Linked DNA regions of Homo sapiens: region 2 is linked to region 1. Evidence: fine-mapped expression QTL. A gene starts in region 1. The other region holds a variant in brackets. All regions are shown on one strand. Distances are between the middles of the regions. Region 1 holds the start of CNTNAP1 (contactin associated protein 1). Region 2 overlaps LOC102725238 (a long non-coding RNA gene).

What was found. PIP is the estimated chance that this variant, and not a neighbour inherited with it, causes the effect.
Region 2: its variant is the best candidate, but not a certain one, in a credible set for the expression of CNTNAP1 in whole blood (INTERVAL, PIP 0.59).

The regions. Positions count from the first base shown.
Region 1 is chr17:42,679,776-42,685,143 of GRCh38, reverse strand. It overlaps CNTNAP1 (contactin associated protein 1), which reads right to left and starts at 2,613. Exons shown (of 24, transcript NM_003632.3): 1 at 2,248-2,613; 2 at 1,222-1,323; 3 at 915-1,108; 4 at 6-153. The coding sequence starts at 2,314. CCR10 (C-C motif chemokine receptor 10) reads left to right here and starts at 3,301. Exons shown (of 2, transcript NM_016602.3): 1 at 3,301-3,344; 2 at 4,527-5,368. The coding sequence starts at 3,321. RefSeq lists silencers at 1,079-1,373, 3,619-3,913 and enhancers at 2,159-2,208, 2,469-2,518, 2,462-3,080, 4,299-5,147, 5,148-5,368.
Region 2 is chr17:42,425,199-42,430,566 of GRCh38, reverse strand. The region is part of intron 2 of LOC102725238 (a long non-coding RNA gene); the gene reads right to left. Among named protein-coding and RNA genes, the nearest start is that of CAVIN1, 4.6 kb to the right of the region's middle. The variant T/C (reference allele first, on the strand shown) is at 2,903.

The DNA.
Region 1 (5,368 bases):
CTTACTGTATGGGCAGCCATAGAGGCCGAGCCTCAGGCCGATCTTGCCGCGTGGGTTCCAGGCCAGGGGCACGATGCGGATGTAGCGCGCAGTGAAGTGGAAGTGCAGGTCATGGCGCACCACCGCCGACTCGTTCACGTTACCAAAGAAGGTCTGCGGGGGTGGAGGAGAGTAGTAACCACGTCCTGCCCTCTGCTTCTTTTTTTTATTTTATTTTTTGAGACAGAGTCTCGCTCTGTCGCCCAGGCTGGAGTGCGGTGGTACGATCTCGGCTCACCGCAACCTCTGCCTCCCGGGTTCAAACAATTCTCTTCCTCAGCCTCCCAAGTAGCTGGGATTACAGGCGCCCGCCACTACGCCCGGCTGATTTTTTTGTATTTTTCATAGAGACGGGGTTTCACCATGTTGGCCAGGCTGGTCATGAACTCCTGACCTCGTGATCCACCTGCCTCGGCCTCCCAAAGTGCTGGGATTACAGGCGTGAGCCACTGCGCCCGGCCCCCCTCTGCTTCTTTCTCCATAGCCTCCCAGCCCACAACTTTCACACCCAGCCAATCTCGACTTCTGGAAAGTAAACACTCCTTGGTCTTCCCTGCTTGGCGGCTTTGCCCGCACAGTTTCCATAAAGTGCCCTGTCCCACAATCCTATTATTTCCTCAGACCTGAAATCAAATGTCACCTCCTTAGGAAGCTCTCCCAGGTTTTACCCTAAAGTGTGTTAAACCCTGTGAACCGAGTGTTTCGCGCACGTCCTAAGCTGACAGTCCCTCTGGACAGAGTCCCTGGAGTGGAGTCACTGCTCCTTGTCCGAGCCCTCACCACCACCCCCTCCATTTTCCCAGAGGCTGGTGCCCGGCCCAGAGCCTGGAGCAGAGGAAGCTCCCCAAGTGTTACCGCCTTGGCGCCCAGAGTACCGAGTTGTGCCCTCGCTGGTAGAACGGTGTCCAGCTGTCCACTCGGTCGCCGTAGAGTAGCATGTAACGTGTGACCCAGTCCCAAGAATTAAAGGAGCCCTGTGTGGCCACGGCCCGGATCCGGTGCTTCTTCATTAAGTCTATCTGGAGCCAGGGATTCGGATCCCCAATCCGTGGTGACCACCCGCTTATGCCTATAGAAAGGACAGGAGCTTTAACCGGCTATCCCTCTCCCCGAAGTCCTCCGGAGGCCCCCACCCTTCCGCGGTGCGCTGCCAGTTGGCAGCTGATGTTCCGCGGAGCTCACCGTGCAGCCTGGCGAATCTCGGCGCAGTAAGGAGACTGTAGTAGGAGGAGGCGCCCAGGGAGCGTGCATACAGGGGACCCACCAGCTCCTCGTCGCAGCCGTCTAGGGTAGGGAAACCGACTGTTAGTCAGCGCTGGCCCCTCCCAGACCCTTCCAAAGGCCGGCCCACTTAGCGACCGAAGCTTCCCCTTCCGTGCCCCCAACCCCCGCCCCCAGAGGCACACCCAGCCCTACCTTAAAGCCATCTATTCAATCCTGGCTGCAGCAACAGCTGCATGCTCAGAGGAGGCTACCTTCTCCTTCTAGGCAAACCCCTAGGCTACACCTATAGGCCCAAGGCCAGACCCTCCCTAGCTAGCCCAATACCTGCCCTGGTTTAGTACTTTCCCAAACTCAATCCTAAACCTCAGCATCTTCCACAACCTAAGTCAACCCAAGACACCAATCCAGCTCCAACCCTAGCCTCAATCCAACTCGGCCCCCAAAACCTGCACCATCCCCAAATACAGGCCTTGCACCCAACCTCAGCCAGTGCTAGCACCATCACCAGCTCCATGTCCAGCCTTAGCATCAGTCAGGGGCACCAGCTCCTGCTTGGATCCCTGCCACAAAACCCAGCCCCAGCCACAAACCCCAGCCCTAGCCACAAACCCCACCCCTTGGCCAGCTCCAAAGTCCAGCCTTAAGCCCTGGCAAAACCTTAATCCTAGTATCGGTCACCAGTATACACTTATCCCCCAGCCCTAGCCTCAAACCCAGGCACCAGCTCCTGCTTGGATCCCAACCCCAAATCCCTGCCCGCTGACTTCATCCTCTTCCCAGAGCCCAGCCCCAGCCCCGGGCGCGCGCGGCAGCCTCAGAGCTGCAATGCGGAGCGCGGGGGAGAGGCAGGAAAAGATGAGAGCCAGCGGGCGCGCGCCGGCCGGGAAGGACCCGCGACCACCCAGCCGCAATGCGGTTCGGGGCCGCCCTGCAGGCTCTGGACTCCTGGGCCCAACCCCACCTGCCTCCAAGCCCAACACTCACAGTAGCCCCAGCCCTCGGCTCCTGAGACCGCGGCGAGCAGGATGCAGAAGAGCCGGAGATGCATCATGCAGGGCTGACGGTCCCGGCAGCCGCCTCCCTGTGAACGGCTCCGGCTAGGGCTCGAGTTCTGGCTTGGGCTCCAAGCTCTCCTCCTGGGGTTTGCAGCAGACCGCTCTCTCCTCCTTACCCACCCTTCCCTCCCTCTCTCCTTTCGCCCCCAAGCGCTCTGTCTCTCCTCTCTCTTTTCTCTCTCTCTCTCTCTGGTTCCTGGTCCTCCGCTCTTCTCTCTCTATCCTCTCCTTTCCACCCTCTTTCCTCTCACCTCCCCCCTTCCCCAGCCTCTGTCTCCTGGCACGCGCCGGTTTCCCGGACCCCGCGCAAGCGCGTGCCTCAGCCCTGCTGCGAAAGGGCGGGGGTAGAGAGCCTCTCGCCACCGGGAAAACCCCAAGTAACCCGAGGCTGCCCGGGACTAGGGCCACAGGAGTGAGGACAGGGAACCTAGGGCCAGAAGCATCCTGAAAATTTCAAGAAAAGGGAGGTGGTTTGGGGGAGGGGTGCCTGGAAATGGAATGAAGGGTAAGTAAAAGAATCTTAACATTTTCGGAAGGCAAATTATGCTCTAGGAGTGGTGCTGGGCACTGTGAATTTAGCATTTTTGCCCTACTCCACTTTGCAGATGAAAAACCTCAGGCTCAGAGAGGTCAAGAAACTTAGTCAATATCACACAGCAAATGATTATATTCCGAAGCCCGTTCTTTCTTCACTGACAAAGACAGTAAATTATTTTTTCTTTCTTTCGTTCATTCTTTTTTCTTTCTTTCCTTCCTTTTTTTCTTTCTTTCTTTCTTTCTTTCCTCTTTCCTTCCTTTCTTCTTCTTTTTTTTTTTTTCGTAAAATCCAGATCCTGCACAAGAGAGTGAAGTCTTTTGGAGGAGGTGGAATGGGAAAGTGACCCCGTAGACCCTAATCCCCACCTCCCTCTCGGCCCCTCTCCCCGCCTCTTCCTTCCTGTCCCGCTAGTAGTTTAACTTCTACCCCCTGTGGCTATACCTCAGAAACCTGTGTAGCCAGAGATGGGGACGGAGGCCACAGAGCAGGTGGGAGTGGGGGCAGGGAGGGGGAGAAGGGTTACAGAGAGGGAGGAGACAGGGAAGGAATGGGATTCCCCACCTGGCAATGGGCCTCTGCCATCCTATGGCTTATTCAGGATTCTTGGCGCTGTCTCAGACTAGGGGTCCTCCAGATAAATGGGCTGGTGGTGTGAGGCTGGGGTTGTGGGACAGGGACTAGGGCTGAGGGGAAAGGCGGGTTGAACCTAGAGGTCCAGGGTCCCACCTGGGCCCTGAAAACCTGAGTCCCAACCCTGGAGACCCCCTTGGCATGAGTGGTTCAGTGTGCTGGTATTGGAGGTACAGGGAAGGTGGGTATGGAAGGGAAAGAAGAGAAACAGAAACCCACTCCAGACGGAGGTTGGAGTCCAGGGCTCAGGTCTGAGGCAAAGCCTGCATATGGGCATCCTTCCAGGAGAGGGCGCTGCAAAGGGAACTGAAGCTGTAGGATTTATTAATAATACAAACTTTGGGCTGGGCGTGGTAGCTCAGGCCTGTAATCCCAGTACTTTGGGAGGCCAAGGTGGGCGGATCACCTGAGGTCAGGAGTTCGAGACCATCCTGGCCAACATGGTGAAACCCCATCTCTACTAAAAATACAAAAATTAGCTGGGCGTGGTGGTGGGCGCCTGTAGTCCCAGCTACTTGGGAGGCTGAGGCAGGAGAATCTCTTGAACCCGGAGGCGGAGGTTGCAGTGAGCCGAGATCGTGCCACTGCACTCCAGCCTGGGCGACAGAGCAAGACTCTGTCTCCAATAATAATAATAATAAATAATAATAATAATACAAACTTTGTATTATGGCCTTTGGAGAACACAGGTTCTCCCCATCCATTATTTTCCATATTGCCATCTTCACAGCAAACCTTGAGAGGTGGGCTGGTCAGGATTTATAATCTCAACATTACAGGTTAGGTAACTGAGGTCTAGAAAGAGCAAGTGGCTTGCTCAAGGTCACCCAGGAAGCTGGAAGCAGAGGTAGGAGGGGTGCAAGGGAAGCCAAGGCCTGCTGAAGGTGTGCTAGGAAGAGTCTGGAGAAGAGCTTATGTCTCCCCGTGTACTGTTACATCTGGCCACACAGGAGCTCTCAGCTTGGAAGGCAAGTGTGGGCGGGGGAGTTGTGTGGTCAGATGTGTCTCATAAGATCCCGCCTCTCATTTGACCCTCCCAGGTTTCCTGGGGCCATTACTCTGGGGATGAAGAGGACGCATACTCGGCTGAGCCACTGCCGGAGCTTTGCTACAAGGCCGATGTCCAGGCCTTCAGCCGGGCCTTCCAACCCAGTGTCTCCCTGACCGTGGCTGCGCTGGGTCTGGCCGGCAATGGCCTGGTCCTGGCCACCCACCTGGCAGCCCGACGCGCAGCGCGCTCGCCCACCTCTGCCCACCTGCTCCAGCTGGCCCTGGCCGACCTCTTGCTGGCCCTGACTCTGCCCTTCGCGGCAGCAGGGGCTCTTCAGGGCTGGAGTCTGGGAAGTGCCACCTGCCGCACCATCTCTGGCCTCTACTCGGCCTCCTTCCACGCCGGCTTCCTCTTCCTGGCCTGTATCAGCGCCGACCGCTACGTGGCCATCGCGCGAGCGCTCCCAGCCGGGCCGCGGCCCTCCACTCCCGGCCGCGCACACTTGGTCTCCGTCATCGTGTGGCTGCTGTCACTGCTCCTGGCGCTGCCTGCGCTGCTCTTCAGCCAGGATGGGCAGCGGGAAGGCCAACGACGCTGTCGCCTCATCTTCCCCGAGGGCCTCACGCAGACGGTGAAGGGGGCGAGCGCCGTGGCGCAGGTGGCCCTGGGCTTCGCGCTGCCGCTGGGCGTCATGGTAGCCTGCTACGCGCTTCTGGGCCGCACGCTGCTGGCCGCCAGGGGGCCCGAGCGCCGGCGTGCGCTGCGCGTCGTGGTGGCTCTGGTGGCGGCCTTCGTGGTGCTGCAGCTGCCCTACAGCCTCGCCCTGCTGCTGGATACTGCCGATCTACTGGCTGCGCGCGAGCGGAGCTGCCCTGCCAGCAAACGCAAGGA
Region 2 (5,368 bases), 250 kb after region 1:
CCTTTGGATGGTTTCTAGCACCAAACTATGCATAAATTAGCACTTAATAAATAATTTTGACTGTTTTCTGGTTCAGGGAAGTTACCCTATATATTAATATTTGAAGGCAAAGAAAGGAAGGGATTTTGAGAAAGAGAAACATACAAATATTATAGGCATTTTTCATATATGTATATCAGAGAGACAAGAATAGTGCCTATAAAACTGGCAAAAAAAAAATCACTGTTGTTTGTGGCAGCTGTGAGCCAGCTGCTGAGGGCTAGCCTCCCATGTGAGACGGTTGTCCCAATGTGAAGACACATCATTTGTCCCAGCTGTTTATTATTAACAAAACACACAGTCTCCCTGGGATCTCTCCCAGCACAGATCCAAAACTGAACAGAACATATTACATATTACACCCTTTGCTGGATCTCCCTAAATGTAAACTGATAAGACTTATGGCAGAACCATGATAAGAGGAGATGAGCAGTGCTTGGCTATTCCCCAGTGCCCTTTCACACCGCAAGATACTGGGTTTGGGAGGGGGTCCTTTCCCCCTCCTTTGTACCTACCCTCACCTGTGAACCCTTCCCCACTCTTCCTGAGAGTAGTGACTGCTTTCCCTATGCTGGGGGGGAGCTTTCAGCTGTGTCAGACACTATGCATCTGGCCAGGTGCAGAGTTTCACACCTGTAATGCCAGCACTTTGGGAGGCCGAGGTGAACAGATCACTTGAGCCCAGGAGTTCAAGAGTGGCCTGGGAAATATGGCAAAACCCCATCTCTACAAAAAAAAAAAAAAAAAAAAAATTTAGCCAGGTGTAGTGGCATACAGCTGTAGTCCCAACTACATGGGAGGCTGATAGGAGGCTCACCTGAGCTCAGGAAGTCGAGGCTGCAACAAGCTGAGATCGCACCACTGCACTCAAGCCTGGACAACAGAATGTGACTTTGTCTTTAAAAAAAAAAAAAATGCTGGGGGTGGCCAGGCGTGGTGTCTCATGCCTGTAATCCCAGCACTTTGGGTGGATCACCTGAGATCAGGTGTTTGAGACCAGCCTGGCCAACATGGTAAAACCCATCTCTACTCAAAATACAAAAATTAGCTGGGCATGGTGCTGTGTGCCTGTAATCCCGGCTACTCAGGAGGCTGAGGCAGGAGAATCACTTGAACCCGGGAGGCGGAGGTTGCAGTGAGCCAAGATCGCGCCACTGCAGTCCAGCCTGGCAACACAGCGAGACTCCGTCTCAAAAAAAAAAAAAAGGCCGGGTGCAGTGGCTCACGCCAATAATCCCAGCACTTTGGGAGGCCGAAGCAGGCGGGTCACCTGAGATCAGGAGTTCAAGACCAGCCATGGCCAACATGGCGAAACCCCAACTCTATAAAAATTAGCCAGATGTGGTGGTGGGTGCCTGTGATCCCAGGTACTTGGGAAGCTGAGGGAGGAGAATCTGGGAGGCAGAGGTTGCAGTGAGCTGAGATGGCGCCACTGTACTCCAGCCTGGGCAACAGTGAGACTCCGTCTCAAAAAAAAAAAAAAAAAAAAAAGGACTAGACTTGATTTATCCTCATTAAAGTCCCTAGCCCAGTAAATGGCTAGTGCGAAGTAGTCATGTTTTATTGAACAAGTAGATGGATGGAAGAATACGATAGAGCACCCTGTAAGATTCTAACTGCTGACATGTTGCATCCTGGTGTCCTTTTTCTGGGCCAAAGGGGTTGTTTGCTTTTACCTCACTATCCCTTTTATGGATTCTGTCTCAGTGGCTGAAAGCACACAATGGAACAGTGTGCCTTTCAGCAAGCAAATAGAGTGAGCAATGGAAAATGCAAACCAACAACCCTGAATGCAGGCAATGGCATGCTGAATGCAGTTACAAATGAAGAGAAACTGCTTATTTTCACTGGAATGGAGTGAAATGCTCTGGAAAGGACTGCTCTGCTCCAGTTTGCGGCATCTGTGCTGGTGGAGCTAGTACAATATGCCTCAGCATGCCCCCTGTTGGACTTAGCTGGCATTTAGTAAGAAAAGGAATGTGAGAGAAACTTGTTGATGCAGATTTTTCTCCAACATAGGCATGCAGGGGTAGGGCCCTTTTACAGAAATCATCCATTAAGGAGGCATTAAATGAGTCAGAGATGTATTCACTGGACTACCCCTGGGACATAACTTGACTCATCCACAAATTCTGACATTCCTGTTTGAAGAAGTGGTATAGAAATACTTTCCTGATGAGGCTGGGCACAGTGGCCCATTCCTGTAATCCCAGCACTTCAGGAGGCCAAGACGGGAGGATCACTTGAGCCCAGGAGTTCAAGACCAGCCTAGGCAACGTGGCAAAACCCCATGGCTGGGACTCTGTCTCTACAAGAAATTTAAAAATTAGCCAGGTGTGGTGGTGTGTACCTGTGGTCCCAGCTACTCTGGAGGCTGAGTTGGGAGGATTGCTTGAGCCCAGCAGTTCGAGGCTGCAGTAAGCCCTGATTGAGCAACTGCACTCCAGCCTAGGCAACAGAATGAGATCCTGCCTCAAAAGCAAAAAACAAAAACAAAAAAATCCCACTTGTCTTCAGCAACTCCTCCCCCATGAGATTTAAATTGTAATCTGTAAATGTCCATTGATAGGGAACTGGTTAAACAAATATAGTAGACGTATACATTGGAAAACAAGGCAGTTCTACATGTACTGATATGGAACTATCCATAAAACATATTAATAACTGAAAACAGGAAAGTGCTGAAATATATATATGTATGATCATATATGCAGAAATAGTCTATAGAAGATTCCGCAAGAGAATAGTAATAATAGGCTTGGCATGGTGGCTCACACCTGTAATCCCAGCACTTTGGGAGGCCGAGGTGGGTGAATCATCTGAGGTCAGGAGTTCAAGACCAGCCTCGCCAACATGGTAAAAC[T/C]CCTTCTCTACTAAAAATACAAAAATTAGCCAGGCGTAGTGGCACATGCCTGTAATCTCAGCTACTTGGGAGGCTGAGGCATGAGAATTGCTTGAACCCGGGAGGCAGAGGTTGCAGTGAGCCGAGATGGTGCCACTATACTCTAGCCTGGGAAACAAGAGCAAAACTCCACCTAAAAAAAAAAAAGAGAATATAGTAATAATTGATGTCTCCTGGAAAAGAAACTAGTTGCTGGGATAGAGATAAAATTTTTTAGAGGCCGGGTGCTGTGGCTCATGCCTGTAATCCCAGCACCTTGGGAGGCCGAGGTGGGTGGATCACCTGATGTCAGGAGTTCGAGACCAGGCTGACCAACCTGGTGAAACCCCGTCTCTACTAAAAGTACAAAAAATTAGCTGGGCGAGGCCAGGCACAGTGGCTCACGCCTGTAATCCCAGCACTTTGGGAGGCCGAGGCAGGCGGATCATGAGGTCAGAAGATCGAGACCATGCTGGCTAACATGGTGAAACCCCGTCTCTACTAAAAATACAAAACATTAGCCAGGCGTGGTGGCAGGCACCTGTAGTCCCAGCTACTTGGGAGGCTGAGGCAGGAGAATCGCTTGAACCCAGGAGGCGGAAGGTGCAGTGAGCTGAGATCATGCCATTGCACTCCAGCCTGGGCAACAGAGCAAGACTCCGTCTCAAAAAAAAAAAAAAATTAGCTGGGCATGGGGGCACACACCTGTAATCCCAGCTACTTGGGAGGCTGAGGCAGGAGAATCGCTTGAACCCGGGAGGTGGAGGTTGCAGTGAGCCGAGATTGTGCCATTGCACTCTAGCCTGGGTGACAGAGAGAGACTCCATCTCAAAAAAAAAAATGATAATAATAATAATCATCATCATCTAAGGATCTTATGGGACACTTAAGAAATGAAGGTCCTATAAGGTTCTCTACTGTCACTCCTCTTTTTTCCAAAAGCTTTTTCAATCCTTAGTAGAAGGAATTTAAATTACTTTAATACATTTCTCCTAAATTCTAAAGTAAGTTGGTAATCTGCCAGTTCTAGCAGTTATATGTGTATATATGATCTTATATACTAGCTTAATTCTACTTGAGCCTCAAATGAGAAAGCCATTTGTTTGTGAGAAAACAGTTATTGAAGTGTTAGGGTACCCGGTGTGGTGGCACACCTGTAGTCCAAGCTACTTGAGAGGGTGAGGTGGGAGGATCACTTGAGTCCAGGAGGTCAAGACTGCAGTGAGCTGTGATTGTGCCACTGCACTCAGCCTGCATGACAGAGCAAGACCTTGTCTCAAAAAAAAAAAAAAAGTTGGAAAAAACACAAAGCCGAAGTGGCTCACGCCTGTATTCCTAGCATTTTGGGAGGCCAAGGCAGGTGGATCCCTTGAGCCTAGGTGTTTGAGACCAGCGTGGGCAACACGGTGAAACCCCATTTCTACAAAAAATACAAAAATTAGCTGGGTGTGATGGTGTGCGCTTATAGTCACAGCTATTTGGGAGGCTGAGGTGGGAGGATCACCTGAACCCGGGAGTTCGAGGCTGCAGGGTCAACAGAGTGAGACTCTGTCTTAAAAAAAAAAAAAAAAAGGCGGGGCACAGTGGCTCACACCTGTAATCCCAGCACTTTGGGAGGCCAAGGTGGGTGGATCACGAGCTCAAGAGATTGAGACCATCCTGCCCAACATGGCGAAACCCCGTGTCTACTAAAAATACAAAAAAAAAATTATCTGGGTGTGGTGGTGCGTGCCTGTAGTCCCAGGTACTCGGGAGGCTGAGGCAGAAGAATCGCTTGAACCCAGGAAGTGGAGGGTGCAGTGAGCCAAGACTGCACCACTACACTCCAGCCTGGCAAAAGAGTGAGACTCCATCTCAAGAAAAAAAAAAAAAAAAAGGAAAAAAAGAGGTTACCAGTAACCACGTATCTTGCCTTTCTAGCAGAAACAGTACTTCAGGATAACCTGATAAACAGCCCTAGTTGATGGCTCCATTTTCTATGAGAATTTCGGATAACAAATATGGTGTTGTAAACCCTTAAAAAACCCTACAATGTTGTTAGGGCACTAACCCAGTCCCTGCACTGTCGGTCTCCTTTCTGAGTTTGTGGGTTCTCTGTCTGGGTTGAGGAGGCCCTGGGTCCCCATAGACCAGTTTTTCACTCTTCCTAATGATAATGGATACCAGACTAGAAGTGACCTTTTGCCAGGACCATCATCCAGCCAGCTGGGGAAACCCAAGTGTGGTTTCCTAAGGAGGGAAAAGGGTTGCCGCTTTTCTGTGGGAAAGGGAGCTGGCGCCACTTCAGACACTCACAGCACCAGTGCTGTGCTAGACAGCAAAATGGGGGAGGATGGGCAGCCTCCCTATTTCTGGACTTTCTGCACTAAGGACCCTCCTTGGGCCTGCTCAGAATTGCCTGCTCCCTTGTACCCAGCATGGATGAAAATATGCTTTGGTTAATCTTCT